Linked DNA regions of Homo sapiens. The protein of the gene in region 1 interacts with the protein of each later gene in a pairwise test. Each region holds a gene or a part of one and is shown in the gene's direction. Other genes may lie near its edges.

Evidence for each region. The genes of interacting proteins can lie anywhere in the genome.
Region 2: the proteins of PNKP (region 1) and ZNF639 interact in binary tests that used the Homo sapiens proteins (3 or more experiments, as listed by UniProt).
Region 3: the proteins of PNKP (region 1) and CAMK2B interact in binary tests that used the Homo sapiens proteins (3 or more experiments, as listed by UniProt).

What each region holds. Positions count from the first base shown.
Region 1 is NC_000019.10:49,864,577-49,872,005, reverse strand, and holds the start of PNKP (bifunctional polynucleotide phosphatase/kinase), read left to right. Parts: upstream 1-4,429; 5' UTR 4,430-4,537; intron 4,538-4,788; 5' UTR 4,789-4,801; coding exon 4,802-4,952; intron 4,953-5,560; coding exon 5,561-5,607; intron 5,608-6,579; coding exon 6,580-6,879; intron 6,880-7,429. Other genes in the region: AKT1S1 (proline-rich AKT1 substrate 1), read left to right, coding at 117-194, 290-459, 1,946-2,089. UniProt on the Homo sapiens protein: Plays a key role in the repair of DNA damage, functioning as part of both the non-homologous end-joining (NHEJ) and base excision repair (BER) pathways.
Region 2 is NC_000003.12:179,326,016-179,333,039, forward strand, and holds part of ZNF639 (zinc finger protein 639), read left to right. Parts: intron 1-949; exon of another isoform or gene 950-1,329; intron 1,330-1,545; 5' UTR 1,546-1,616; intron 1,617-2,267; 5' UTR 2,268-2,278; coding exon 2,279-2,336; intron 2,337-3,602; coding exon 3,603-3,713; intron 3,714-6,973; coding exon 6,974-7,024. UniProt on the Homo sapiens protein: Binds DNA and may function as a transcriptional repressor.
Region 3 is NC_000007.14:44,315,586-44,322,609, reverse strand, and holds part of CAMK2B (calcium/calmodulin-dependent protein kinase type II subunit beta), read left to right. Parts: intron 1-54; exon of another isoform or gene 55-1,002; intron 1,003-1,222; exon of another isoform or gene 1,223-1,341; intron 1,342-7,024. UniProt on the Homo sapiens protein: Calcium/calmodulin-dependent protein kinase that functions autonomously after Ca(2+)/calmodulin-binding and autophosphorylation, and is involved in dendritic spine and synapse formation, neuronal plasticity and regulation of sarcoplasmic reticulum Ca(2+) transport in skeletal muscle.

The sequences.
Region 1 (7,429 bases):
GAAGCTTCAGGGAGGTGGAGGTGGTGGCTGTGGCAGTGGCCGTGGCTGAGGAGGAGGACACATGGAGCATGGCTAGGTGCTGCCTGGCCTGGGCCTCTAACTCAGGTCATCCACAGGGCTCTTTGTGATGGATGAGGACGCCACCCTCCAGGACCTTCCCCCCTTCTGTGAGTCAGACCCCGAGAGTACAGATGGTGAGTGTCCCAGGCTGTTCCCCTCCCGACCTGAGGGCAGGCACACGGCCGACACAAAGGCAGGGACAGAAGCTGAAGTCCACCCTCTCTTTCAGATGGCAGCCTGAGCGAGGAGACCCCCGCCGGCCCCCCCACCTGCTCAGTGCCCCCAGCCTCAGCCCTACCCACACAGCAGTACGCCAAGTCCCTGCCTGTGTCTGTGCCCGTCTGGGGCTTCAAGGAGAAGAGGACAGAGGCGCGGTCATCAGATGAGGAGAATGGGCCGGTGAGGGGCAAATGTGGGGAGGTAGGGAGGGCAGCTGGAAGGGCTCTGAGCCGCCTCCTCCAGGAAGCCCTCCAGCATGGATGCTGCTTTCCACCCATAAGCTAACTGAATCCTCCCCTCAACCTCAAGAGGCGAGTTCTTGGACACGAGCCTTGCAGTTTTAACAATTGCAGCCTTACCATGTGTCCTAGTGCCTTATAGAGAAGGCCTCTCCTTTCCAGGAGCGTCTCTATTTATAGAACACCTGCTCTGGGCAAGGCACAGGTGTTTTGGCATGCCCTCCAGTGGAGAAACTGAGGCTTGGAGGGTTCAGATCACCTCCCATCCCCACCCTGCACATTCCTAGCCCTTTGCAGAATTTGTCCCACCCCCTGGTCCCCTGTTCACCCCTTGTAGCAACCCCTGTTTGAAGCTCCTGGGCTGGGCTCTGCTGGCCTAGGTGGGTCCTCCTCACCCTTCACTGAGCCTCCCTGAAGCAGAGGGGAAACTGAGGCACTGAGGGGACATGTGACTTCCCTGAGAGGCAGAGCTGGGACTGGAACCCAGGTGTGTTTCAGGAAGGAGCTGTGGGCTTTGAGGGAGGAGGCCTGGGTCCCCACAGTCCCCCCCTCAAGCCTCAGTGTCCTTATATGCAAACCAGCAGTCACAGTGGTGACCTTTTCTGTGCATCCTCCCTCAATGAAGCAGTGAGCACTGAAGACCAGGAACAGGGCCTGGTGCGGGCGGGGTCCACCTGCTGCTGCTCTCTGTGCTTGCGACTCATGGCAACACAGTTAATTGAATGCTCTGGCCTCTTGCGTGCTGTGCCCGGGGGCTGGTCTCCCACTGGGCTCAGGTCCAGTTCCTGATCTGGGTCTCCGGGTCCCATCCTGCGAGGGGACAGGCCCAGCTCCGGGTGACGGGGGCTGTAGTGGAGGCAGTACTAGGTGCCAGAACTGCAGGCTCCTTGGCGGGGGCTGACACAGCGAGGGATCTTTTCTGTAGCGCAGTGGCCACATGATAAGGCAGTAACAGCTGATTATCTCAGCCCTCACAGAGACCCTGTTATCCGCCCCATTTTTCAGAAGGGGAGACTGAGGCCTAGGGAAGCAAAACCTCTTGCTCATAGTTTGTCAGCGGCAGAGGTCTGATTGGAACATGACTGAAACCCCAGCCCAGATCCTCAGACATGAGACGGTGCACTCAGCCTTAATGGCTAGCAGGCAACAGCACTTCCACTGTGTAGGAAGCAATGTCCTAGGCCAAGAAGGGGAGAGGGAGAGGGGCAGGTAGGCTTCGTGGAGGAGGTGTCTGAACCGGGTAGAAGGGTTCCTACGTGGAGCAAGACGGGGAGGGGCACTGCTGGCAGTGGGCATCGCAGGGCACAGGTGGCAGGGCAGGGACGTGCTAGAAGTGGGCTTGGAGCCCGGGTGCACCCCTGGACCGCGTGTGGGTGCAGGGGGATTGCCCTGCCGGCGCTGACCTCGCCCCGTCGCCGTCCCCGCAGCCCTCTTCGCCCGACCTGGACCGCATCGCGGCGAGCATGCGCGCGCTGGTGCTGCGAGAGGCCGAGGACACCCAGGTCTTCGGGGACCTGCCACGGCCGCGGCTTAACACCAGCGACTTCCAGAAGCTGAAGCGGAAATATTGAAGTCCAGGGAGGGAGCGCCCCGGGCCGCGTCCGCCCCGTCCCACACTACGCCCCCGCCCCACTCCCGGGGCCTGCTAATCTGAGGCCGATCCGGGACCGGCCTCCTTGCGTCTCCCATTCCCAAGATTGTCCCGCCTCTGCCAATCCCCGCCGTCCTTCCAGCCCACGACCTGCCGCGCCGAGGAGCGGCATCTGTCCCGTTTCCCGATTGGGTCTGTCGTCTCTCTCCGCCTAGCGACAGATTCCTTCTATTAAGGGATTGGCTCGCTGAGTTCTAAGCTCTAAATGGGTCAACTCCTTTGTTTTCCGCCTAGCGACAAGGGATTTGCTCGCACGGCATTGGCTCCATCCCCTAGTCGCTGGACAGCTCTTTTTTTGATTGGCTCAAATCCTGTAAAGGGCTTGACCAGTCTCTACATAGTCACCGTCCGCTTTTCCTGAGTTCTCCCTCCCAATTGGCTCCAGCTTCCTGGGGGCGTGGCCAAGCCCTCCTCTTCCCAGAATTGGCCCGGGGCCTTCAATTTACGTTCTTTACACTACGGGGACTGGGGTCGTCTTTGCCCACGTCCCGACAACTTGTTCCCTGACCCCCTCAGGGATGGCCCCAAACTGTCCCTGCCTCTGGCACCCCCTTTCATTGGTTCCATCCATCCCCACAACAGCCTGCCAATCGAAGCCCGTCCCTGCATCCAGGATGGTACCAGCTCCCGCCCCTCGCCCCCCACCTCCACAGGTGCCTTAAAGGGCCCTCGTCCACCCAAGGTGGGGGGCAGGGGCCCTCACTCTCCGGCCCTGGTGTGGGGGAGAGAGTGAGGGGTTGGGGGATCGGCAGTTGGGAGGGGCGCTCTGAGATTAAAGAGTTTTACCTCTGAGATAAATGTGAAGTGTGTTGTGAGTGTTCATTCAACATTTTCTGAAACCGAATGGCAGCGTCTGATTATCAGTGAATAGCTGGGGGTTGGAATTACTGTGCCCATTTTATTTACTTTTTTGAGACAGGGTCCCACTCTCGCCCAGGTTCAAGCGATTCTCCTGCCTCAACCTCCCGAGTAGCTGGGATTACGCGCCACTGCCGCCCGGGTAATTTTTGTATTTTCAGTAGAAACAGGGTTTCATCATGTTGGTCAGGATGGTCTTGAACTCCTGACCTCAAATGATCCACCCGCCTTGGCCTCCCAAAGTGCTGGGATTACAGGCGTGAGCCACGGCGCCTGGCTTTGTGCCCATTTTATAGATATGAAGACACAGGTTCATGGGGTGGAGGAGAGCATCCCAGTCTTATGTGACCATGGAACCCAATCTTGAGGAGGTGAGTGTTGGAGACAGAGCCCACATATTCACCAGCAAAGCCAGGAACTCCAGCCGGGAGTCTTCTATTATAAAAGGACTGGAGCAACTGGGCTTGGTGCCTCACGCCTATAAGCCCAACACGCTGGGAGGCCAAGGCGGGAGGATCACATGACACCAGGAGGTCGAGATCAGCCTGGGCAGCACAGTGAGACCCCTTCTCCAAAGGGAAAAAAAAATGGCTGGAGGTTAGAAAGCAGGTGGAACCTCGTCCGAAATTAGGACTAGGTAAACGTAGTCCCACCAGACCACTACCGAAAGAATGCTAACACTAAATAAGACTTAAACGGATCTGAGCACTTTGGGAGGCCGAGGTGGGCGGATCACGAGATCAGGAGATCGAGACCGTCCTGGCTAACACGGTGAAACCCCGTCTCTACTCAAAATACAAAAAATTAGCTGGGCGTGGTGGCGGGCGCCTGTAGTCCCAGCTACTCGGGAGGCTGAGACAGGAGAATGGCGTCAACCCGGGAGGCGGAGCTTGCAGGTGAGCCGAGATCGCGCCACTGCACTCCAGCCTGGGCGACAGAGTGAGACTCCGTCTCAAAAAAAAAAAAAAAAAAAGACTTAAACAGGGCTCACTACCACCCATTTTTTAAAGCTTTTGTCACGTGTTAGCTCCTTTAATCGTCATGGTAACCCCACGAAGCGGAAACGATTATCCTTTTTATAGATGAGGAAACTAGAACATCGAGGGTGAAGCCAAAGAAGGACTTAGGGGCGCTGTCGGGGGCGGAGGTTTCCTCGACTGACAATGACCATCAGATGGGAAAAAAATCTTCCTCCCTGGGATGAAAATTAGAAGTCAAGGTGGAAAGAGGCAAATCTGCTAACGGAGGATCCAGTCCCCGCTACCGGCCTGAGCCTCGCGTTGCAGCAAGAGAGATGAAGGTCAGGGCTGCCGAGAGACCCTGGGGGCCGGGAGTCGGGGAAGGGGCGTGGCTGCTGTGGGAGGAGGCCAGGCCCCGCCCCCCACCCACGAGGGGACGAGTCATTTCCGTCCGCCGAGGAACCGACCGCCGCCGGCCGGGTTGCAGGCGGGGCACCTCGGGCAGGACCTCCCTGGTCGGAAGTGGCCGTGAGCCCAAGCCGCGGTCCCGGGTGAGTACGGGGCGGGGCGGAGGCATGTGCGAGGCTCTCTGCCTGTACGCTGGAAAGTGGGGATTGCAACTCGGGGAGGGATGGAGCACGCGTCGTCGCCTGGGAAACGGGTCGACCCGCGGAAGGCGAGCGGGTGGGACTTCCGGAGCAGTTAATGGTGGGGAAACTTTCTAGTGGATGTGGGAGGAGGCGGGACTTCCTGCAGCAAATTGGGGCTGTGCGCCGCTCAAGCCCGTTTACCTGCTCCCCAGGCCGGCACCCAGGATGGGCGAGGTGGAGGCCCCGGGCCGCTTGTGGCTCGAGAGCCCCCCTGGGGGAGCGCCCCCCATCTTCCTGCCCTCGGACGGGCAAGCCCTGGTCCTGGGCAGGGGACCCCTGACCCAGGTTACGGACCGGAAGTGCTCCAGAACTCAAGGTGAGCGGGGCCTGAGCTGGAGGGGGTGTGGCCTGCTGCAAAAGCGGGAACAATCCAGAGGGACGCTTGGCTGCTACGCGGGATTGCAGTGGTGCAGCCAGCCCCGAAGTCGGAAGGTGCTCTCTAGGGAGTACAGGAAGATAAAGTTTGTGCTTGATTTAGAATTAGCTAGATCCTTTGGGGGAGAGGGGATCGAGCCGATTTAGGGAGGATGTTCACTGCGCGGATGATGCTCAGGCCATCGGGAAATCCAGAAACAGGCGACGACCTTCGTCAAGAGAAAAATGATCCTGTGGAGAAAAGTAAATGTCGCTAGGTTGGGATGGATGGTAACAGGCCAAGCCCCGGACCTATATCTAGCCACATTTTTTGTCAAGGAGGAAACCAATTCTGTAGAGAAAAGTACCTCCCTGTCCCTTGCAAGGACCAGTGTCAGGCAATCCTAGTGCCACTATCTGGCTACTGCATGTCAAGGAGCCAATCCCATGTAGAAATAAACTGCCTCTTACTCCCTGGATGCTATAGCCTGAAGCAGGCCACACTCCCCAGAAATGAGGGACCCAATCACACAAGGATGCAAATCCTGACTCCACCCCTCCAATCCTCAGTGGAGCTGGTCGCAGATCCTGAGACCCGGACAGTGGCAGTGAAACAGGTATCAGTGCCTCTGCAAGGGCCAGCAAGGCCTGGGGATGGGATTTGGGGAGGAATTGCAAGCCGTCAGTGAAGGGGTACATTAGGAAAATCTGATTGGGGCCGGGCGTGGTGGCTCAAGCCTGTAATCCCAGCACTTTGGGAGGCCGAGGCGGGCGGATCGCTTGAACCCAGGAGTTCGAGACCAGCCTGAGCGACATGGTGAAACCTGTCTCTCTAAAAAATTAGCGGGAATGGTGGCGCGTCCTTGTAGTTCCTAATCGGGAGGCTGAAGCGGGAGGATCCCTTGAGCCCAGTAGGTCAAGGGTGTAGTGAGCAGTGATCACCACACTGTACTTCAGCCTGGGTGACAGAGCGAGAACCTGTCTCAAAAAAAGAAAAGAAAAAATATGGCTGGGAGAGAAGGGGATGTGTCCAGTAAAGAAAGAAGTGTTGCCTGTTTCAGTGGGGTGGGTACCTGTCCAAGACCTTAGAAATTGGACAAGGCGGCCAGGCGCGGTGGCTCACGCCTGTAATCCCAGCACTTTGGGAGGCTAGGCGGGCGGATCACCCGAGATCAGGAGTTTGTGACCAGCCTGGCCAACATGGCGAAACCCCATCTCTACTAAAAATACAAAAATTAGCGGGGCATGGTGGCGGGTGCCTGTAATCCCAGCTACTCGGGTAGCTGAGGCAGGAGAATCGTTTGAACCCAGGAGGCACAGGTTTCAATGAGCCAAGATTGCACCACTGCACTCCAGCCTGGGCGACAAAACAAGCCTATATCTCCAGGGGAAAAAAAAAAAAAAAAAAAAAAAAGATTCGGACAAGGCTGAAAACCTGTAACCGTTCCAAAGCCCGTTCCAAAGTGAAGAGGTGGGGCCTAAGGGTCTGATAGTGGTGGAGAAGGGCTGATTTTTCCGCTGGGTATTTGATTGGAGGAAGCTCCCGGTGGGGGCGGAGCCAGTCCCAGCTCCTCCCTCTCTTTCTGCAGCTGGGAGTTAACCCCTCAACTACCGGGACCCAGGAGTTGAAGCCGGGGTTGGAGGGCTCTCTGGGGGTGGGGGACACACTGTATTTGGTCAATGGCCTCCACCCACTGACCCTGCGCTGGGAAGAGACCCGCACACCAGAATCCCAGCCAGATACTCCGCCTGGCACCCCTCTGGTGTCCCAAGATGAGAAGAGAGATGCTGAGCTGCCGAAGAAGCGTATGCGGAAGTCAAACCCCGGCTGGGAGAACTTGGAGAAGTTGCTAGTGTTCACCGCAGCTGGGGTGAAACCCCAGGGCAAGGTGAGGGCCACGCCGAGGGCTGAGGGAGCCGCCACAGACTGGGACCCAATCCCACGTTTGTTGCGTGCTCTCAACTTTTTAGCCTCTACTTACTTTTCTGAGAAATGGGCCTAATGATAAATGCAGGGATCGTTGTAAGCAGTTAAGCAGTGGGGAGAATGATATATGTCAGCTCCTGCGTTACCCACAGTGACCACCCAGTAATCAGCAATGACCATGACTGTCTCAGTAGGAGCTATTACGATGAGGATTTTTTATGTCCAGAGAGACTTGAGTTCAAATGCTGTTACCACCACATTCTGAGTCCCATGTGTCTCATCTCTACGATGCTGAATCCATAAAAAAAGCACGTGGCATAGTTCCTGACATGCAGTTAGCACCCAAAGCTTTGCTCCTGCTTTTATTTTCACGGTTATTAGCCCACCGAGGTGGTGAAGGCCAGGGGAAGAAGGAGGCTGGGTAAGACATTAACCCCCATTTTAAAGACTGTAATCCTGGGGCTGGCGTCATAAGGAGTAACAGGAGACAGTAAGGTTAAGATGTCGGGCCC
Region 2 (7,024 bases), on another chromosome or scaffold:
CATGTGTATCACCTTGGTGTTAAGAGCATTATAGGCCGGGCGCGGTGCCTCGTGCCTGTAATCCCAGCACTTTGGGAGGCTGAGGTGGGCGGATCACTTGAGGTCAGGAGTTCAAGACCAGCCTGGCTAACATAGTAAACCCCCGTCTCTACTAAAAATACAAAAATTAGCTGGGTGTGCTGGCGGGTACCTGTAATCCCAGCCTCCTGCTGGCGGGCGCCCGTAATCCCGGCCACTCAGGAGGCTGAAGCAGGAGAATCGCTTGAGCTGGGGAGGCAGAGGTTGCAATGAGCCAAGATCGTGCCACTGCACTCCAGCCTGGGTGACAGAGCAAGACTCCGTTTCAAATAAATAAATAGATTAATAAATAAAGTTGGGTAAACCTTTATTCAAATCCCAACCCCAGCATTTACTGAGTATCTAGCTTTGACTTTACTGTGCCTCAGTTTCCTCAATAACAGGAACTATAATTTTGAGAGGGTGATGTGAATTTTGCATCTCATACGATTACATAGGATTAAATGAGATAAAGTATGTTCACAGCCTGGTACATAATTGGTGGTCAGTAAATTATTATTATCACTTTTACTTTTTTCTTTTTTTGTTTTGTTTTGATTTTTTGTTTTTGAGAGAGAGTCTTGCTCTGTTGCCCAGGCTGGAGTGCAGTGGCACGATGTCAGCTCACTGTAGCCCTCCGCCTCCCAGGTTCAAGCCATTCTCCTGCCTCAGCCTCTTGAGTAACTGGGATTGCAGGTGCGCACCATCACACCCGGCTGATTTTTGTATTTTTAGCAGAGACGGGATTTCACCATATTGGCCAGGCTGGTCTCGATCTTTTATTTCTTAAATAAATAATCTATAAGGGCTGTAACAGTTTAAAGTTTATAATTTGGGCCAGGCAAGGTGACTCACGCCTGTAATCCCAGCACTTTGGGAGGCCCAGGTGGGTGGATCACCTGAGGTCAGGAGTTTGAGACCAGCCTGGCCAACATGGTGAAACCCCGTCTCTGCTAAAAATAGAAAAATTAGCCCGGTGTGGTGCCACATGCCTGTAATCCCAGCTACTTGGGAGGCTGAGGCAGGAGAATCGCTTTAACCCAGGAGGCAGAGGTTGCAGTGAGCTGAGATCGCGCCATTGCACTCCAGCCTGGGTAACAAGAGCAAAACTCGGTCTCAAAAACAAAAAGTTTATAATTTGGTTTGCTTTCATTATGCTTGCTTTCCTTATGGATGAATAAATTAATTCAGATTCATAGTCCTATTTTGGTGTCAAAAGATTTAACTATAGGTCAGGCATGAGACTGTCTCAAAAAAAAAGAACTATAGAAGGTAAATCATTTCAAAGAAATGTGGAAATTTGCATATAATCACATATTTATCAAGATATACAGTTTTTAGTATGTAGTACATTGTTTTCAAAATAATATATCTTAATTAGTTCTGTATAACTTTCCAATTGATTAAAGATCTGGTGCCATTGTATTATTCAGTACCAGAAATGAGCTGTATTTTTGCTTAATAACTTCTTTCATGTTTTACTTACAGGCATTTTTTACTGTCTACAGAAACTTATTGTAATTCATTTTTCCTCACTCCAGTAGTAAGAATTATACCAAGTAAGTGGACTGTATTGAAACTAATTAATTTTGTAACAGTTAATGAGAATTTAATTGGATAGTGGTTGCTGCATGTGTTGTGTTCTCAGTGGAACGTTGAATGTGACCTCATAAATAGGAAAATGATTTTTTTCTTGAAAATTATTTATATTCTGATCTGTGTGATGAGTACTTTTTTCTGGAAGCCAGGAGGCCGATACATATTTGTGACAATATTTTTTTAAAGGAAATGTCTCCGCCTTTAGCTTGAAAACTACCTAAAAATACTTCCAATGGTAGGAAATGTGCCTATAAAACTCCTAGTATGGTGCCATAGGCACAGTGTTTCTTTTTTTATATATACACAAAATAAAATGACTTAAACATGTGGTTTATTGTAATTATCCAGTTCTCACAATTTATATCAACATTTGAAAAAGAATTTTTTAACCTCCGTAAGAAAGAAAACAGAAATCAGTTTCTGCCTTGAAACCTGACTGGAAAACAATCTGAAATACAAACAGAGGCATCATTTAACACTTTTCTTATACCATAGATTTTCAGGTGGCTCACATATTTCATATTGCCAATAAATTCTTCAGTTAGAATTTTTATAACGTCATTAACAGTTGTTATTTGTGACATATTTGTTAATTTTTTCTCGTTTTTTAGATTGAAAAGATATGAATGAGTATCCTAAAAAAAGAAAAAGGAAGACTCTACACCCTTCTCGTTATTCAGGTCAGTGTATAATTATTTTAAAGTTGGGTATGGATTAATTCCCACAAAATTATATTCTCATCCATTTTCTCCTAAGTGATCAGATAAGACTTAAATATCTGGGTCAATATTTAGGTAAAACAACGGTTTAAATACATTATCTGAATATATATTCCTTATTGTCTACCATGTGCTAGGCACACATAAGAACTTTACAGACATTATATTATTCCTCACAGCTCTATGGGTTATAAATATTTAAAATTAGATAGCCAAGGTTATTTACTTATATAACATAATTGGGATTTGCATGTCTGATACCTAAGCTGTGCTTAAGACCCAATAATGACAACCTTGGTAGAAAATATTTTACATTATTGGGGAAAAAAGACTTTATCCTCTTTATTACTTTAGGAAATGTAAACTTTCATGCTGAATGTGTAATTTTTTTTTTTTTTTTTTTGAGACAGAGTCTCACTCTCTAGCCCAGGCTGGAGTGCCATGGTGTGATGTCAGCTCACTGCAACCTCTGCTTTCTGGGTTCAAGTGATTCTCCTGCCTCAGCCTCCCAAGTAGCTGGGATTACAGGCGTGTACCGCCACACCTGGCTAATTTTTTGTAGTGTTAAAGTAGAGATGGGGTTTCACCATGCTGCCCAGGCTGGATGACTGTGTAATTTTAGATCCTTTCATTGAGGTTGGCTCTGCTGTGTTGGCAGTATAAGAAAAGGGGTCTTTGTGGCCATCTCTAATACACCTCGCATACATTTACTTGGGACCATCTCAGTCTTACCTATTAGTCTACCCAGCCTACACATTCTTCATATCTGAAGAAATTAACCCTAGTATACTGCTTACTGGCCCTTCCTAGACAACACTTGAAATGACTATATTCAGAAGCCCTAAGTGGTCCTTACCATTTCCCCTATGTAACAACCTTTCTCTGCATGACATGGCACACCTTCCTGGTGTTTATTTCACTGTTTTGTGCAGTTAATACAGTGTTTATCATATATTTTTATTTTGTGTGATTCTGAGTATAAAACAAATGTATCCTTGTATATTTCAAAGTTGTTATGTTTTAGAGTATGTAATTTGTGGTTCTTTCAAAGTCCTATGTCAATATTGGATCTGAAATATAAAAGCTTTAAAAGTTGAAAATGTATAATATTTTCATTACAGATACTATAATTAACATTAAGAACATTTGTATAAGTTAGATAACGGGAAGTTTCTCATTAAATATGTATGTTTACTGTACTTGAAATATTTTTCATTTTATGTTCAGATTCCTCTGGAATAAGCAGAATTGCAGATGGATTCAATGGAATTTTCTCTGATCATTGTTACAGTGTCTGTTCTATGAGACAGCCAGATTTAAAATATTTTGACAACAAAGGTATATCTAATATTTTCGAAAATATGTTTCTTTAAACTGCTTTTACATTTTTTATTCCTTACTTGAAAATGTGGGTAAAATGTGGATTGATGATTTCAAAACAGACAAGTCTTTGAAATTTGTTACAATGTAAGAAAACAAAGTTGTATTTTTTTAAGAAAGCAAGTAATTTTAACTATTCTTTTTTTTTTTTTTTTTTTTTGAGATGGAGTCTCGCTTTGTCGCCCAGGCTGGAGTGCAGCAGCGCGATCTTGGCTCACTGCAACCTCCGCCTCCCAGGTTCAAGCAATTCTCCTGCCTTAGCTTCCTGAGTAGCTGGGGTTACAGGTGTGCGCCACCACGCTCAACTAATTTTTGTACTTTTAGTAGAGACAGGGTTTCACCATGTTGGTCAGGCTGGTCTCAAATTCCTGACCTCATGATCCGCCCACCTTGGCCTCCAAAAGTGCTGGGATTACAGGCTTGAGCCACCGTGCCCGGCTGTAATTTTAACTTTTAACATTATTTCTGACATATAAATAAAAAAGTGCACTCTCCTAAGTCCATTTTTTGAAGGGGGTGGGGTTAGGGGGAGACAGTCTTCATTCTGTCACCCATGCAGCCATGTCTCACTCCATGGATTATGGCTGACTGCATTCTTGACCTCTTGAGCTAAAGCAATCCTCCCACTCAGCCTTTTGAGTAGCTGGGACTACAGGCATGCACCACGATGCCTGGCTAATTTTTAAAAATTTTTTTGTAAAGACAGGGTCTTGCTGTGTTGCCCAGGCTGGTCTTGAACTCCTGGCCTCAAGCAGTCCTCCCATGTTGGCCTCACAGAGTGCTGAGATTGCAGGTGTGAGCCACGGCTCTCAGCCCTAAATCCACTTTAGTTGGTTAGGAATTGGTGGCAATGCAGGAGTGACTCAGAGTTGGAGTATTTATGTTGAAAGGTTAAGAATAGTGTTAGACACAGTTCTACTCAGCTATACCACATAGTGTGGAAGAAAAGAACAGAGGGTGATTTGGTATTTTTCAATGTTGGATCTTCTATTGGTTCCTCTGTTCTACAGCATTGGTGAATGATAACAATTTACAACTTGCACTTAAGTTAGAGAGTTAGAGACATCGGTATGAATTCCTGTTTAGCTTACTATAGATTCAGATGGCTACATACAGAATGCTTGTAGATATGTGTGTGTATATATATGTGGTACTGTACACACACACTTTGCTGTGTTAGCTGAGAGGGGCTAAAAGAAATGACACCCAGAAGCAGTGAGCATGAGCACATTCAGTGCCCAGCTCTTGGTTTCTAATGCCTCCTTGGGAAAATGGCTGATTCTAGGTCTGGGGCAGGAAATATACAAGATGAACCTGGAGCATTTTGTAGTGCTGGAAAATAGGAAAGTACTTAAAAAAACCTAAACACACGCACTTGACAGGGGTATGCCAAAGGGGCACACGTCAACTTAAAGAGCTCCCAACAGCCAAAACTGAAAACTATTTGGGGACAAAAAATTATAACCCAGAGTATAAAATAAATATCCATGAATTCATGCTGTTATAAATTATTAAATAGAGGAGATGAGGCAAATCTGTGCAGAAAAATTCCAAATTATTAGACTTCATCTTAGCCAAAAGGCCAAGAAGCAGTAAAACTCCAAATTATTTATGTAGCTACTCCTCCCTCTAGGAGGTGGAATATAAGTCTGCACTCCTTAAGCATGGTCTGCACATAGTGACTTCTTACAAAAGGTAAAGTATGGAAAGTAAAAGCACAACTTTAGGCCAGGTGCGGTGGCTCACGCCTGTAATCCCAGCACTTTGGGAGGCTGAGGCAGGCAGATCACCTGAGGTCAGGAGTTTGAGACCAGCCTCAACATGGAGAGACCCTGTCTCTACTAAAAATACAAAATTAGCTGGGCGTGGTGGTGCGTGCCTGTAATCCCAGCTACTCGGGAGGCTGAGGCAGGAGAATTGCTTGAACCTGGGAGGCGGAGGTTGTGGTGAGCCGAGATCGCGCCATTGCACTGCAGCCTGGGCAACAAGAGCGAAACTCCATCTCAAAAAAAAAAAAAAAAAAAAAGACAACTTTATAGTGTTGAAACCTGATAGAGACTTAGCCAGGTGATCAAGATCAACATCAACAACCATAAATCATATTGATAGTATGTACCCTTGATAAGAAGTGATGAAAATGGCAATTTACCTCTGGTCTATCTCCCAGTAATCCATAATTCCAGCGTAATCATTTTAAAAAAAAGAAAGCAGACAAATTCCATTAGCAAGGCATCCTACAGAATACCTGATTAGTACTCCTCAAGGAGTGAGAAACTGCCACAGCCAACAATAGCATAGAGAGACATGGCACCTTAATGGAATGTGGTATCCTGGAACAGAAAAGGGACATTAGGTTAAAAACTAAGGGCATTTAGATGACTTTATTGACTTTTATTAATAAGTTACCAGTATTGGTCATTAATTGTAACAAATGTGCCACACTAATGTTAGATGTTAGTAGTGGAGAAACTGGGATACATGGGACCTCTCCATACTATCCTCTCAGATTTTTCTGTAATTCTAAAACTATTCTAAAAAATAAGGTCTATTTTAAGAAAACATGATGGATGGGCTGAGTGTGGTGGCTCACGCCTGTAATCCCAGGTCTTTGGGAGGCCAAGGTGGGAGGATCGCTTGAGGCCAGGAGTTCAAGGCCAGCCTGGACAACATAGCAAGACCCCATCTCAAAAAACAAGAATTACCCGGGCTTGGTGGTGCATGTCTGTAGTCCTATCTACTCAGGAGGCTGAGGCTGAAGGATCACTTGAGCCCAGGAGTTTGAGGCTGCAGTGAGTGAGCCATGATCATGCCAGTGTACTCCAGCCTTGGCAGACTGAGCAAAACTTGGTCCCTCGCAAAATGTTGAAGCCCAGTTTTCACTATTAACCTGTATTTCAGTTTCCCCATGCTAACTTTGAAACACTGGGGCTGGCCTGAGGGTATAAAGGCTTATTCAAACTCAGTAATTTAAACTTAAAATCCTAAGGAACTTCAAAAAGTGTAATCTAGTCCAAATGGGGCATCAATTCTAAAGCATTTGCTTGTTTGAGCAGATTTTCTGTGTCTGAGGTATATAGATAACTTATCTTTTTATGACTAAATCCAAGTCCTTAGTTCCTGTTGGAATTCAAAATCATATTTAAAAATTGATGCTTTGTTCTATAATTAATGCTTTGATTGTATAAATAATAAGTATTCTTCCAAATCCCTTTTTACAGATGATGATTCTGATACCGAGACGTCAAATGACTTGCCAAAATTTGCAGATG
Region 3 (7,024 bases), on another chromosome or scaffold:
GTGGCCCATGTGGGAGCAGGTACAGAGCAAGGCAAGGAAGCCCTCAGCCCGGCATGGCCCAGCCAACAGTGCAGTTTTTATTTTTTTTATATTGGATAAACTTTAAAAATCCAGAAAAATCCCAGAAATAATAAAATGAACACAGTATCTCTTCTACACAGAATTGAAAATGGTTACTCTTTTGTCATTTTGGCTTTAAGTCCTTTTTTAAAAAAATTATAAGAAGTATTACAAAGAAATATTAAGTAACCCATTTCCTTCCAACTACTGCTTTTGTATTTTTCCTCCCAGGCTCTTTCGGGTACATTTACACATGGATATAAGTATCCATAACTAATATATAGGATTGTTTTGTGTGGGTGTTTTTCTTAACTTTACATAAAAAACCTGGAACTTGTACTTTTCACTCAACAGTCTTGTTGACACCTGTGCTCGTCGATGTGTTTGATCGCAGGCTGCTGCGTGGCGACCTGTAGTGTGAACACTGTCCTGCGTGCCCCCATCCCAATGGAAATCTAGGTTGTCTCCTGTGTTCCATTGTCACTCAGCACACTGTGGCCAGCACCGTCACGGCCCGGGCCCTGAATGCGTCTGGGGCGCAGGTGTGAGAGTTTCTTTAGGGTGTGTCCCTGGCAGTGGGGCTGCCGAGGAGGGTCCTCGAGTCTTCTGTCTTTGCAGGTGCCGCCACTCTCCCTGCAGTGTCCACTCACACAGCAGCGTTGGGGCCGCCCCTTTCCCTGGGTGCTGCCATTCCTCAGGTTGGCAGGTTGTCAGTGTTGATGGGTTGTCAGTGTCGACCGTTTGTTGGGTAGGAAGAGGTCTCACATTTTGTATTCAGCCTCGTGAATCTTCCATTTTTGGGGAGTTGTCTCTTTTCAAACATGGAGATCTCCCTAGAAGAAAGCATCTCCCACGAGGTTTTGGATTTCATTTCAGGGGTTCATGGGCCCCTCCTTTTTTGGCGGAGATGGCAGCTAGGGCTGGGCCATGTTGTAACAACACCTAATGTGTACATTACTTTAAATGTTTGGTTTTATTTGATTCCAATTGTCCAGAAAGGCCCTTCTCCCCAGCCCCATTTTACAGACAAAGAACCGAAGTTCAGGAAAGATTGGCAACTTGCCCAAGCCCAGGCAGCAAGAATGGCCCCTGAGCTCCAGTCTAGGGCATCTCCCACCCCTCCCATCTCTCCCACTAAACCTGAGATAGGCCCAAAACTGACCTTGATATGTCCTTGACTCCATCCAGTGGTACCCCAGTCGCCAGCAAGCGACTATATCCTGGGGTGTGTGTGGCCTGACCGCTCGCGGGGGCATCACTGTCAGCTGGCGGATGCCTTCTGCCGAGAGGCACACTGTGAACAAGCGAATGGCCTGTTAGGTAGTTAATAGATAAACTTAGGAAATTCAGAGCGAATCAATTTTTGAGTCTCCAAGCTCTGAGCCGGTTGCCAGGGAAGAGAGGAATGGAGGAGGAGGGATCATCGTATTTGCTTTCTCTCTCCCCAGAGCACACCAGGCACTCCCTGCCTCGGGGGCCTTGGCCAAGCTGCCTCTCTTCCCCTGACCCCTCACAGCTCACTCCCTTGGGCTGCTCAGCAGGCTCTCCCAGATGCCCCCTGCCCTGGCTCTCCTTTTGCCTCCCCACTGCTCCCTGCCCCTCCCCCTAGCTTGTCTTCTCCCTGGCACTTTGCCCCATCTGATGTGCTGGACAGCTTACCCACAGAGAGGCGGAGGTCCGGCTCCCTGCCATGGTTGTGTCCCCAGTGCCTGGCCCGAGGTGGGGAAGGGGTGAGTTGGGTGGGCCTCTGCCTTCCGGCCTGGCTCCCAGGAGGCCAGCAAGAGTCCTCCTGGTCTTGATTCCTTAATGTAGGGTAGTTTAAAAAGAAGTCGCACATGCTGAGATTGCTGGCAAGATGTGCATTAAGGTGATGCTAGTTTAGTTACTATTTAATGGTATTTTTATACCATAACCTACTTTGCTGAGAGCTAAGAATATATCTGCATGCTTGCTACCAGGACTTTTCTTTTCTGGTAACAGTTGCTAGCGCTTAAATGGTGCTTATTATATTAACGCGCTAGATCTGTGAAGTAGGTACTGTAATCATCCCAAGTTTACAGGAGAGGTAGCTGAGGCACAGAGAAGCCCCATTCCCCAGGAAAGGTCACACAGGGTCAGGATTTGAATCCACATTCTGCTCCTCTCAGAAGCTCATTACCCTACTCTATTCTGTGCTTTAAAAATGCTGTGACTCCACTGGCTGACTCATGGCCAGCTTGTGGTCTACTCTGACCTGAGGCTTTTGGGCACCTGTCCTTGGCCGGCTGCTCACCATGATGTATTTGTGCTTTTCCAAACCAAGGGCCCCCTACCTCTAGGTTCCCCTTTGTGAAGATGTTACTTCGTTTCGTCATCAAAGACAACCAACACTCTGACTCCATATGACACCAGCAAGACTAGAAATTTTTATTTTATTAATTAAATTACCAGGGCAATATGATCTTGTAAAACACACACAGACACATACACACACACACCAAGTAATACAGAAGTACGTGCCGTAAAATGTGACTCCTTTACACTCAAGTTCCCTCACTCTCCAGAGGTACCTGGCCTCTTAATTTTAATGTCAGTATGAGGATATGTGTGTGTGTACATATATACACATCTACATATATAGCAGATATAGATGATTTCAAAACACAGATGGAATCACCATATATGTGATTCTGCAATCTGTTTGCCCAACACTTTCATGACGACCCCCCGTGTCAGTAAGTCTTTTCTTCAGCTAAGTGCCTTCCAATTCTTAGCAGAGAAATGTGTGCATACGCGTTGGCCACATTTTTTAAACCAAAAATTGGGACCCATCCTCTAGCAAGTGTGATGGGATATATAATAGGATGCTATATTTGAAATCAGGGCCTGAAAGGTCATTAGGAGGGCCCAACTGTTGTGAAGGAAAGCTGTGTTCTCAGCACGACCAGCTGCAGGGGCTGGGCCTGTGGAGGTGGGTGCAAGTGGACTCCTGCCGCGGTCAAAGGCCACAGGACTAAGGATGTCTCAGGTCTCACTTGAAAGAACTGAAGGACCTATTCCCATCTTTCCATCCCCCTTTTCTAGGAATCCCGAAGAGCAGAGGGGAGAGATATGCAATGTTTAGGTTTTGTATCTTCTACTTAAAAATTCTAACAGGGATGTTTCCCTCATTTTTGCTCCATTGGCCTTTAAAGAGTCTATATTGAGCCACCCTAGAATTTAACAGTAATTTACTAGAAGAGACCAGGTGGAGATAAGTGTGCAATGTCTGTCCCTGGGAAGACCACTCCCATTTCCCTGTGTTCCGTGATGCCACCTCCCTCATCCAGGCAAGAGATGTGGCCTTTCTGGAGATTTTAAATATATTTTCAAAAAATTTAATTCTCTCTCTCTTCCCCCACAAAAATTGAATCTGATTTGATTATTTTTAAAGCATCTTTTACAGCTGCAAGTCACTTTGTTAGTGTAGAAACATAAAAATGCATTATGTATCAACTTGGTTTTTAAAAAATTATCATATTGGCATATTACACAGATATGTATATTTTATTCATAGAAAAACTTGAATTTATTTAAAATGAAAACATCCTTTTATGTTAGAGAAAGGTGGTGTTGCTAGCTGCCAAACTTTTGGGTGGCTTTTGTCTCCTGGGTTAGAGGGTCACTTGTTGAGGGCTCAGTTCCTGGTGGACATAGTTCTTTTTGTATTGACATAATTATCCAAAAATAACTTAAGTTATGATTCTTTGTTAAGCCAGACAGAAGCTTTTGTTGAATTCTAGAACAGATTGGCAACAACCAGGCAAAGATTTAAGAAGATTTTATGGGAGGAAGCATAATGGCACACTTGTACAGGGTGGAATTTGGGACCCACAGTCCTTGTTTCCTCACTTTGTGAGCAGCAAGAGAAGCCTGGAGGGCAGGAGCTGCTGTCGCCCTTACAATGAAGTACTGCAGGTGTTATGCCTTTTGCTGTAATGCCCTCTGGGTGTCAAGCACATCCCAGTGAGTGCCGTTTCCAGCAAGGAGCTGAGGAGCCTTGATTCTGTCACCCAACACACCCTGAATTCAAGTGCTGAGAACAGTGCCTGGCACACAGTAGGTGCTCCACAGTGACTCAGCAATGGTCTGGGTCACTCAGGCCTTGCACCTGGGACTGCTTCCCAGAGCAGTGGCACACCCACCCTGTAAAAGATGAGGGCCTTATAAGAGGTATTGGGTGGCTCTGCAGGTAGGTCTTGCGGGTATTCTGATGTCCAGTCTGGGTAGACAGTCTTGTCACCCGGTGAAATGCAGTAGCAGGGCTGTCAGCACTTATATGTCTGTCATGGAGCTTGACTCCAAGAGGCTTGCAGCTTTCAGCTAATTTCTTAATGAGGTTGTTCACATGACTTCTTGTTTGTTGAGGTGCTGCCTGATTCTCAGCGTCTGTGAGTTTGATCCAGGCCATTAGTTAGGGGCTTTCTGGGCAAAGGGTAGGAGTCTGGTTAGGAGCAGGCCCTCCCAAAGAAGATGACCATGTGGTGGTTCTCAACCCCAACCACACATGGGAAGCCCCTGAGGAGTGTTCAGGCCCCATCGCATTTAGCCAGACACTAGGGAAATGGGGTATCAGCAGTTTTTAAAAGCTCCCAGGTGATTCCAATGGGCACTGCATACCTAGACTCTGCAGAGGAGTCTGCACCTGAGGCCAGACACTCGCCTAAGCCCACACTCCTTCATATAACCCTTGGTTCTTTCAGAGCCCACCTAGGCATGAATTTGAAGTTTACCTTCATTTTCTCTACATTCACAATGACATTACTACCCCACCGCCCACCCCATCCAAGTTGTCGAGAGCTGCATTGTCCAGAAGAGATAAAATGTGATACAAAGTTGAGCCATATGTGTGATTAAAAATTTTCTAGTACGTAAAGAAAAAAAAGAAACAGGTGAAAGGAACTTTAAAAATATATTTATTTAACTTTATATCCAAAATATCATTCAGAGGCCTGGTGCGGTGGCTCGTGCCTGTAATCCCAGCACTTTGGGAGGCCAAGGTGGGTGGATCACTTGAGCCCAGGAGTTAGAGACCGTGGGCAACATGGCAAAACCCCATCTGTACAAAAATTAAAAAATCATTTCAACATGTAATCAAAACAGAAATTATTAAGCTATTTTGCATTCCTTTTTGTACTACGTCTTGAAATCTGGTGTGTATTTTACCCTTACGGCACATCTCAGTTTGGACCAGGTTCTTATGACTACATGGTGACAGTGACCACAGTATTGGACAACACAGGGCCAGAGCTTCAAAATCACCATGCTTTTTTTTTTTTTTTTCATTTTTCCTGGTTTCTTTTAAGGATAATAGTTACAGTCATAGCTGTCTTAGTCTGTTCCAGATTTCTTTTGCTCTCCTGAAGACTTATTCATTTATTCAGCAAGTCTGGTTGCCTGTACTTACCATGTGCCATAGGTGCTTGGGAAACAGTAGTGAACAAAGCAGTCAAGGATGCCTGCCCTTAGGGAGCTTATATACTGCTGGATAGAGGCAGGCAATAAACATAAATACTAAAAAAATTATATGATAGGGTAGAAGGTGATTAATACCTCTGAGAATAATTAAGAAGACTCAGGAGTGCTAGTTAGGAGGAAGGTTATTATTATAAAAAGGATGGTAAAGCCAAGAAAAAAGAAGACTCCAATTGCTAAAATCAGGAATGACACAGGGGACCTTACTGCCAACCTTACAGAAAAAAAATTATAAGGAAATAACTATGAATAATTATGTGCCCTCAAGTTAGATAACCTGGATGAAATGGACAAATACTTAGAAAGACACAAACTACTGAATCTGGCTCAAGAAGAAATAGAAAATCTGAATAGACCTATAACAAGTAGAGACTGACTTAGTAATTTAAAATTTTCCCACAAAGGAAAGCTTAGGCTCAGATAATTTCACTGGTAAATCCTACCAAACATTTAAAGAAGAATTAATACCAGTCTTTTACAAGCTCCCCCAAAAAGTAGAAGAGGAGGAAATTCTTTCCAATTCATTCTGTGAAGCCAGCAATACCCTAATACCAAAACCAAAGATATCACAAAACTACAGACTGTTATCACTTATGAATGCAGATGAAGCATCCTCAACAAAACACTAGCAAAATAAATCTAGCAACATATAAAAAGGATTATTTATACATTATGAACAAGTAGGATGTATCCCAAGAATGAAAGGTTCATTCAGCATACAAAAATCAATCTATATAATACACCACGTTGATAGAACAAACATTGAAACTATATGAACCATTTCAATAGATGCAGAAAAAGCATTTAAAAAAAAACCAATACCATTTCATGATAAAAACTCAACAAATGACAAGTAGAAAGGAACTTCCTTAACTTGATAAAATACATTTGTGAAAAATCTGCAGCTAACCTCATATTTAATGGTGGAAAACTGAATGTATCTGCTCTTTCCATTTCTAGGCAGCACGGTATAGGAGATTCTAGCCAGGGCAATTAGGCAAGAAAAAGAGATAGAAGGCTCCCAGATTGGAAATAAATAGTTATAGCTACCTCTCTTTTCAGATTACATGCTTTCGTATATAGAAAATCCTAAGGAATCCATTTAAAAAACTATTAGAACTAAAAAATGAATTTAGCAAAGTTGCAAGATGTAAGACCAATATACAAAAATCCATTGTATTTCAATGGACTAGAAGTTCAAAATAACAAAATTAGGAAAAACAATTTACAATAGCATCTAAAAAATAAAACACTTAATACTAAATTTAATAAAAGAAGTACAAGACTTGTACATTGAAAACCACAAACCACTGTTGAGAGAAATTAAAGAAGACCTAAATTAATGGAAAGACATCCCATGTTCATGGATTGGAATATTTAATATTGTTAAATAGTAGTATACTCCAAATTGACCTACATTTTTGCTATGAAAATTCCAGCTGCGTTTTTTGCAAAAATTGACAACCTGGCC